2 linked regions of the Homo sapiens genome follow. The protein of the gene in region 2 interacts with the protein of the main gene of each other region in a biochemical or structural test. Each region holds a gene or a part of one and is shown on either strand. Other genes may lie near its edges.

The links. The genes of interacting proteins can lie anywhere in the genome.
Region 1: of the proteins of ASB9 (region 2) and CKMT1B, one has a biochemical effect on the other in vitro, tested with the Homo sapiens proteins (one study listed by BioGRID).

What each region holds. Positions count from the first base shown.
Region 1 is NC_000015.10:43,592,345-43,596,093, forward strand, and holds the start of CKMT1B (creatine kinase U-type, mitochondrial precursor), read left to right. Parts: upstream 1-1,682; 5' UTR 1,683-1,874; coding exon 1,875-2,023; intron 2,024-2,350; exon of another isoform or gene 2,351-2,534; coding exon of another isoform or gene 2,535-2,627; coding exon 2,628-2,826; intron 2,827-3,029; coding exon 3,030-3,125; intron 3,126-3,511; coding exon 3,512-3,733; exon of another isoform or gene 3,734-3,734; intron 3,735-3,749. UniProt on the Homo sapiens protein: Reversibly catalyzes the transfer of phosphate between ATP and various phosphogens (e.g. creatine phosphate).
Region 2 is NC_000023.11:15,249,449-15,253,197, reverse strand, and holds part of ASB9 (ankyrin repeat and SOCS box protein 9), read left to right. Parts: intron 1-793; coding exon 794-944; intron 945-2,633; coding exon 2,634-2,768; intron 2,769-3,749. UniProt on the Homo sapiens protein: Substrate-recognition component of a cullin-5-RING E3 ubiquitin-protein ligase complex (ECS complex, also named CRL5 complex), which mediates the ubiquitination and subsequent proteasomal degradation of target proteins.

The DNA.
Region 1 (3,749 bases), on a different chromosome or scaffold from region 2:
CACGCTATTCTAAGAAATTATATTTATTTACTCATGGCTACTTTTCAACCTAGGTAAAGAGGCCCCACAACACAGGTAACATTTTCCACACTACAGCTGCATAACTCTGTTCTCTAATAATTGATGTCTTACCAGAAGAAGAAGGGATGGACCCAAGAGAGAAGTGGACACTTCTAAGAATACCCACAAATGACAAAGGTAGAATAAAAGGACACAAGGAAGGCCTAAGGAGAATGAAGGGAATGAGAGTAATATGGGGGAATTTTCTATGTAAAGGGAATTCTCTTTCCCAAATACTCTCTGTTAAGATTTCCAAGTATCTGTCTTGTGGGTACACCAGGATAGCAGAGGGAAGGGACTAATGCCACGGTGCTACTCCACCTTAACTGACCCTCCACGCTGAAGCCCCTCATCTCTATTTCAACTCTAGCATTCATTCTCCTTGCTACCAGGACAAAGGTCAAATCATACCTGGAGCTGGGAAACAAAGCCCTCTCAAATCTGAATATGTGTTTCACGAGGAGAGAGAGAGCAGCAGAGGGGACCACGAGGAAGGCAGAGATTCCCTGACGACCTCATGCCTTTGTACACCACTCGCCTTTACTCTCTGGATTAAACAGCATTAGGGAGACAAGAGAGGAAACACATGTGGTGTCTGGAGACCTGTGCCTGCCTGTTCCAGTCCCACACCCAGTCATCTCACCACACCCTTCACCTCACTTTACCTTCTCCTCCAGCACAGGAACTAGGAACTACGGAGAGAGAAGCCAAGGGAGAGGAGGAGGAGGAAACTAACGATTCCCTGCCCACCCCCACACCCAGCACCACCAACAGGTGGGCAAGCTTGCCGAGAAAACGCAGAGGGCATCCTGTGAGCAGCAAACACATCTGAGCCTGGAAAAGACGCAGAGAAGTAAAAGATCAAAGGTGAGGTAGGGGACGTGGAGGAAAGTGGGAGAGACAAAAGGAAAACAAAAAGTGGGGGATCATGAGAAGCAGAGGCAGGAAATAACAGGGCTTCAGACTTGGGTGCAGAATGGAGGTGGAGGACACAGCACAGATGGCATAAGAATTAATATTTCCTTGGTTCCTCCCAGGGAGTCCTTTCTCAACTTTGTAAGGCGTGCACAGAGGTGGCAAGGAAGCACCTTGCTCCTCTTCCTGGTTCTAAGGAAAAGGTGACCTTGAGCCAGTGGGTGTCTTTCCCAGTGCCTGCCTCTAACCCTGTGCTTTCTCCATATCCTCCTCTGGTATCTGTGTTTATTCCGCGGTTTCCCCGCGGCTGCCCCCGGGAGACCGAAGAGGTGGCTGGGGCAGGCCGAAAGCAGAGGAAAGGTTGGGCAGTGTCACCCTTGCACACCCACAGGGTAGACGGATCGAGTTTCAGCTTAAACCGAGGGGTGTGGGGGAAGGGTGTTGGGTTCAGCTAGTCCACGTGGGTGCTGTCCTCCACTTGGTGCTGAAATCTGGGCGGCCACATCCCCGGGGCGGGAGGGGGCTACATCCCCGGCTTTAGACGCGCGAGTCTCAGGTCCCGCTAATTACCTGGCGGGTGCTGCCCACCCCTGCCCTCGCGCACCTAGCGCGGTGGCAGGCGGGAAGGCGGGGCCTGGGGGAGCCCCACCCCTGGAGACTGCGGCTGGGGCCTCCCTCTCCTCCGCCCGCCCGCCTGCCACTAGCTCATTGCGCCTCTCCTGCAGTCTGATTGGCACCGGCTCCCATTCCGGCTCCAGCCTCCAATCCGACCCCCATTTCGGCTGCAGCCTCGGACCTAGCTCCGGCCCTCGGTCTATCCGGTTGCATCCTCCCTCCCTGTTCCGGATCTTATCTTGCGCCAGCGCCTACTCCAGGATCCCGTAGCCAGACCTCAAGCCATGGCTGGTCCCTTCTCCCGTCTGCTGTCCGCCCGCCCGGGACTCAGGCTCCTGGCTTTGGCCGGAGCGGGGTCTCTAGCCGCTGGGTTTCTGCTCCGACCGGAACCTGTACGAGCTGCCAGTGAACGACGGAGGCTGTATCCCCCGAGGTAACAGTGCCTGAGGCGCGGGAGGAGGCGGGGGCAGGAGGTGATGGGAACGAAGGTGCGGGTAGAAGTGAGAATCCGGGCAACAGAGAAGGGCTATAATCACGAAGGCCCTGGAGCTGGAGGGCTGTGCAGTCTGCAGACCTCAGTGGGGTGGGGGTGGGGGCCAAAACCATAAAGCAAGAACATTCCTGGGGACCTGCCAAGACCAGCTCTGGCCCTACGAGTTCTAGCTGCACTGGCTGCCCAAATCCCTAATTGTAAAGCCAGGAACTATCCTTTTCGCTCCCCTCCATCTCCTTCCCTCATTTCCTCAATTCCTCTCCTTAGGCTTTTCCCCTCCTCCATCCGTAGTGTTGTGTCATGGGAGGAAAGAACTGAGCAGATCTGAAGAAACTGAGCTGGCCAGCCAGAGGCAACTAGAACTATTAGGAAAGCATAGACTCTGAAAGTCCCTAAAGAGATTACCAAGGTTTACCCTCTTTCTAATTCCCCCTCCTCCCGCGGAGCAAAGCCAGACATGGCCAACTGGACAGCTCCCAGGTAACTGCACTAGGTCTAGGCGTCTGTGCCCTCCCTCCATGGTTACTGGGTACCCCCTCCCCAGCGCTGAGTACCCAGACCTCCGAAAGCACAACAACTGCATGGCCAGTCACCTGACCCCAGCAGTCTATGCACGGCTCTGCGACAAGACCACACCCACTGGTTGGACGCTAGATCAGTGTATCCAGACTGGCGTGGACAACCCTGGCCACCCCTTCATCAAGACTGTGGGCATGGTGGCTGGAGATGAGGAGACCTATGAGGTAGGGGGTCCCCAGAGTCTCCCTGATGATCCAATTCATCTTCCCAGTAATCCCAGCTCCTTTCCCCTAAAGACCTCTCACTTTCCCCCAAGACTCTGAGCCCCCCATACTTAAGTTTTCTGAACCAGTGAAATCAATGCACAATTGAAGTCTGGGGAGGGATTCCCTCTCCTTAACCATCTCTCCCTCTTAACTCCCCTTAGGTATTTGCTGACCTGTTTGACCCTGTGATCCAAGAGCGACACAATGGATATGACCCCCGGACAATGAAGCACACCACGGATCTAGATGCCAGTAAAGTGAGTTCAAATATCCCACTTCTGATTTGCATTGCCTGTGTACAACACTCTGTATCTCCAACCCCTTCACCTTATTTCCTGACTCATGGTCATTATACAGCTGAGCTTTTAATCTTAATGTAAGGAAAGAATCATATCTTAAGGGGCAGCATATATGGAGATGGAAGGATAGATAAGAATGACCATGACCCAAGGTGGGTGGTTTGGGGAAAGGTCTGCAATGCCCCCTTCAATTCCAGTGCTTTCCCAAAGGGCCTCTTCTTCCAATGCATGCAGGAAGAATGCACAAAGAGTCCTCTAATGCCTAAGGAAGGTCTCTCCTTTCCCAGGGGCCCTCAGTTCCCACCGTGTTTCTGTGACTTACATTCATTTCCCTTATCTCCCAGATCCGTTCTGGCTACTTTGATGAGAGGTATGTATTGTCCTCTAGAGTCAGAACTGGCCGAAGCATCCGAGGACTCAGTCTGCCTCCAGCTTGCACTCGAGCAGAGCGACGAGAGGTGGAACGTGTTGTGGTGGATGCACTGAGTGGCCTGAAGGGTGACCTGGCTGGACGTTACTATAGGCTCAGTGAGATGACAGAGGCTGAACAGCAGCAGCTTATTGATGTGAGGGCCTTAAGAG
Region 2 (3,749 bases):
CAGTGGCGTGATCTCGGTTCACTGCAACCTCTGCCTCCCGGGTTCAAGTAATTCTCCTGCCTCAGCCTCCCGAGTAGCTGGGACTACAGGCGCATGCTACCATGCTGGGCTAATTTTTTGTATCTTAGTAGAGACCGGGTTTCACCATGTTGCCCAGGCTGGTCTCGAACTCCTGAGCTCAGGCAATCCGCCTGCCTCGGCCTCCCAAAGTGCTGGGATTATAGGCGTGAGCCACTGCGCCTGGCCAAATGTTTTTTTGAGCCAGCCTTACCATCTTACTGGTTCCCTCATTAATGAGTGAGTTGAATAAAATCTTGGGTATGTGTTAATTCTATATTTGTATGAAAGTCAAGTTTTTTAAAGTTTTCTAAATTATACTTTAAGAATATACTAAATTACACAGCTAATAATTTCAACAATTTCCTCACAGCAGCAAGAGTAATCTTCTTGCACCCGTTAAGAAATTGAATTGGTGTGGGATGGGTCTAGGAAAGAAGTTTAAAATAGGGATTAGTTTGTAAGCGATTGAAATTATCCTAACTAGTTTCAAAGTTCATGTTCCTGGGGAGGGCATGGAGGAGATAGAACATTGAGTAACATTTTCGATGCTTTATAGCCACTCCCTAATTCCATTTTTCACAAAAACCTGTGGAATTTCGTAGTTATTTCTCCATTTTATAGCTGAGGAATTTAAGGCTCAGAGATGTTAAATAACATCTTCAGAGTGGTGGACCCCACATTTGAACCCAAAACATCCCCCTTCCTGTCTTCATTCTGGAGCTTCTTTTACCAGGTGAATGGTGTGACAGCAGACTGGCACACTCCACTGTTTAATGCTTGTGTCAGCGGCAGCTGGGATTGTGTGAATTTGCTTCTGCAGCACGGAGCCAGCGTTCAACCTGAGAGTGATCTGGCATCCCCCATCCATGAAGCTGCTAGGAGAGGTAAATCTGTTGAGAATTTTTTTTTCTACCCACTCCTTCAAGGGACATCTTACTGCTGAAAGAAAGAAAGAAAAGGAGATATATTTTAGAGCAGTAGTTCTCAAAATGGAGTCCCAGGACTGGAAGCATCAGCATGACCTGGCCTGCAAATGCAGATTCTTCGGCCTCACTCCAGCCCCATTGAATCAGTAACTGGGGATGGGGCTCAGCCCTCTGTATTTTGTTTAATAAGCCCTCCAGCTGCTTTCTGGTACACAGTAAGTTTGAGTGCCTCCCTTTTAGAGCATTTTGAATGTTTTTCACTGCTGTATTACTGAAACAGGGCTTGGCACATAGTAGACTATCCATCAATATTTGTGGAATCCGTTGTTATACCCGTGACCTTATAGAAATCAAGTTATTTCATAAAACAAATTATATTCTTCTATTTCAGGGCCTTAAAGAACATTGTCTCAGTGACACTTAAGTTTGCCAAATGAAATAAGCTTTCAATTTTTGAAAGTATTTGATGTTGCATACAGTTTGGGATAATTCTTTTCATTAAAGCCATAATTTTTCTGATAGTCTTAGCTCATAAAATCACAAGTTTTTATTTTCTCCAATATTTAGCATCATCGTAATGACCATACCTTGCCAGAGGGCTTTCTGTTTCTCCAGTGGCTTTCATAGAATGGCTTCCCATTTGACTGGACCAACCCACTCATAATGATCTCCCAAAGCATTAATATTATTTATTGAGAACATCTTAACTCATCATATTCGCTGCATACATAGAACTAAAATACAGCAAGAGAAACGTAGAGGAGCAATGTCAAAAATATGACATCCTGGACCAAGGAAGTGTGATTCAGCTTTCACCTAGTTTTTCAGATTGGGCCCTGCTCATGTTGGATTTGGCAGTTTCTTCTAAGCATTGCCTATACCCGCTGTGGCCTGTTCCTCCCGGGCCTGCCTTTGGAGAGGTTGTAAGTTTCCTTCCCTGTCCCGTGGCCCACACTGTGCCCTTTATTCTTCAGTTCCACCTTCAGGTCCTGTTCCTCCATATCTCTCCCAAGCTCTCACTTCAATTTCTGTACTTAGACAAACTACAAAGCCACAGACAATTGAAAAAGGTGGATAGTTGCTGGTTGGTTACCGTGGCTAGTAAACTCAAATGGAGTTTCACCCGTAGTTGCAGATTGCATCCTATGGTCAAACCATTAACTGATAGCAGTGGTTAAAATCACTCCTGATTTGGCCGGGCCTGGTCTCACGCCTGTAATCCCAGCATTTTGGGAGGCTGAGGCGGGCGGACCACGAGGTCAGGAGATTGAGACCATCCTGGCTAACACGGTGAAACCCCATCTCTACTAAAAATACAAAAAAGTTAGCAGGGTGTGGTGGCGGGCGCCTGTAGTACCAGCTACTCGGAGGCTGAGGCAGGAGAATGGCGTGAACCCAGGAGGCGGAGCTTGCAGTAAGCCGAGATTGCGCCACTGCACTCCAGCCTGGGGGACAGAGCGAGACTCCGTTTCTAAAATAAAATAAAATGAAATAAAATAAAATCACTCCTGATTCTAATTGAAGGAAATAGCTTTTTGGTCCCCTGGATAAGCTGCTGCCAAATTTAATGCAAAATGGGGATGGCAATGTCTTTCTAGCTAAGGGAACTTGTATTGTAACTGTTTTTCTTCCTGCTTTGGGCTGCAGGCCACGTGGAGTGTGTCAACTCTCTTATAGCTTATGGGGGCAACATTGACCATAAGATCAGCCACCTGGGCACTCCACTCTATTTGGCTTGTGAAAACCAACAGAGAGCCTGTGTCAAGAAGCTTCTGGAGTCAGGTAAAGCAAAAAGCAAACCAAAACAAGAAAAGAAAACGAAAAGTAAATTAAATGTATTTTAAACATCTTACTGCTGTAGGAGAGAAATTAGTGTGGGCAATGGAGTTGGACAAGGTCAGGGTTCATATTGACTGTGTTCCCTTGGGGAATTATTTCACACTGTTTGAACTGTAGTTCTCTCATTTGTAACAAGGATGAGGAGGAGGAGGAGGAGGAGGAGGATGATGATGATGATGATGCCTCTTCTCAGGGTGGTCCTCAATGATTATTAGTTTCTCCTCCCTTTCCTCTGTCTCCCTCCATTTGGCCAGTCACATTATTAAGCCCTGCATAACTTGCAAAGCTGTTGGATTAGTGTTGAATCTTCCTATTTGGGACCTTAACCAGTTCTCTTTGATTAGATATTGAACTTGCCCCATTGCAAATATTATATTTTCCTTGAAAAGGCCTATGTACCCTTATTTCTTTTCACCTCCCTGCTGTTGTCCAGCCCCCTTCTCAACACCTGGAACACCATTTCATCACCTCTTTAATTATCTGAGTCCTATTTATTCTTTAAGGCTTCAGTAATCTGTTTCCCAATGAATGTTGTTGCAGTCCTTATTGCCTCCTACTCATCTGGCAGGCATTGCTATGAATTAAGAGATGCAATCTCTGTCTCTCCCCCACTGCCCACCCCACCTCTGCCACTCTGGGCAGATTTTAAGCCTCTAGCCTGGAAAGGGCCATGTTTGATATCCCTCACAAAGTCAGGAACAATACAAGACCAGATCAGTTAACATTTGTTGAGTGGACATAGATTTTCATTTTACCAGAGGGATGGCAGCTCAGGCAAAGCCACATGTTCCCACATGTCACAGTGAAAGCTAGGCTCTGGGCTGGGGTGGGGATTTGTTAAGAGTGTAAGAGTGGAATTGGGTGGGGACAGTCCTAGAAATCCACCTTACTCCTGAAAGGGAGAACTTTGCCACCTTCCCTGTG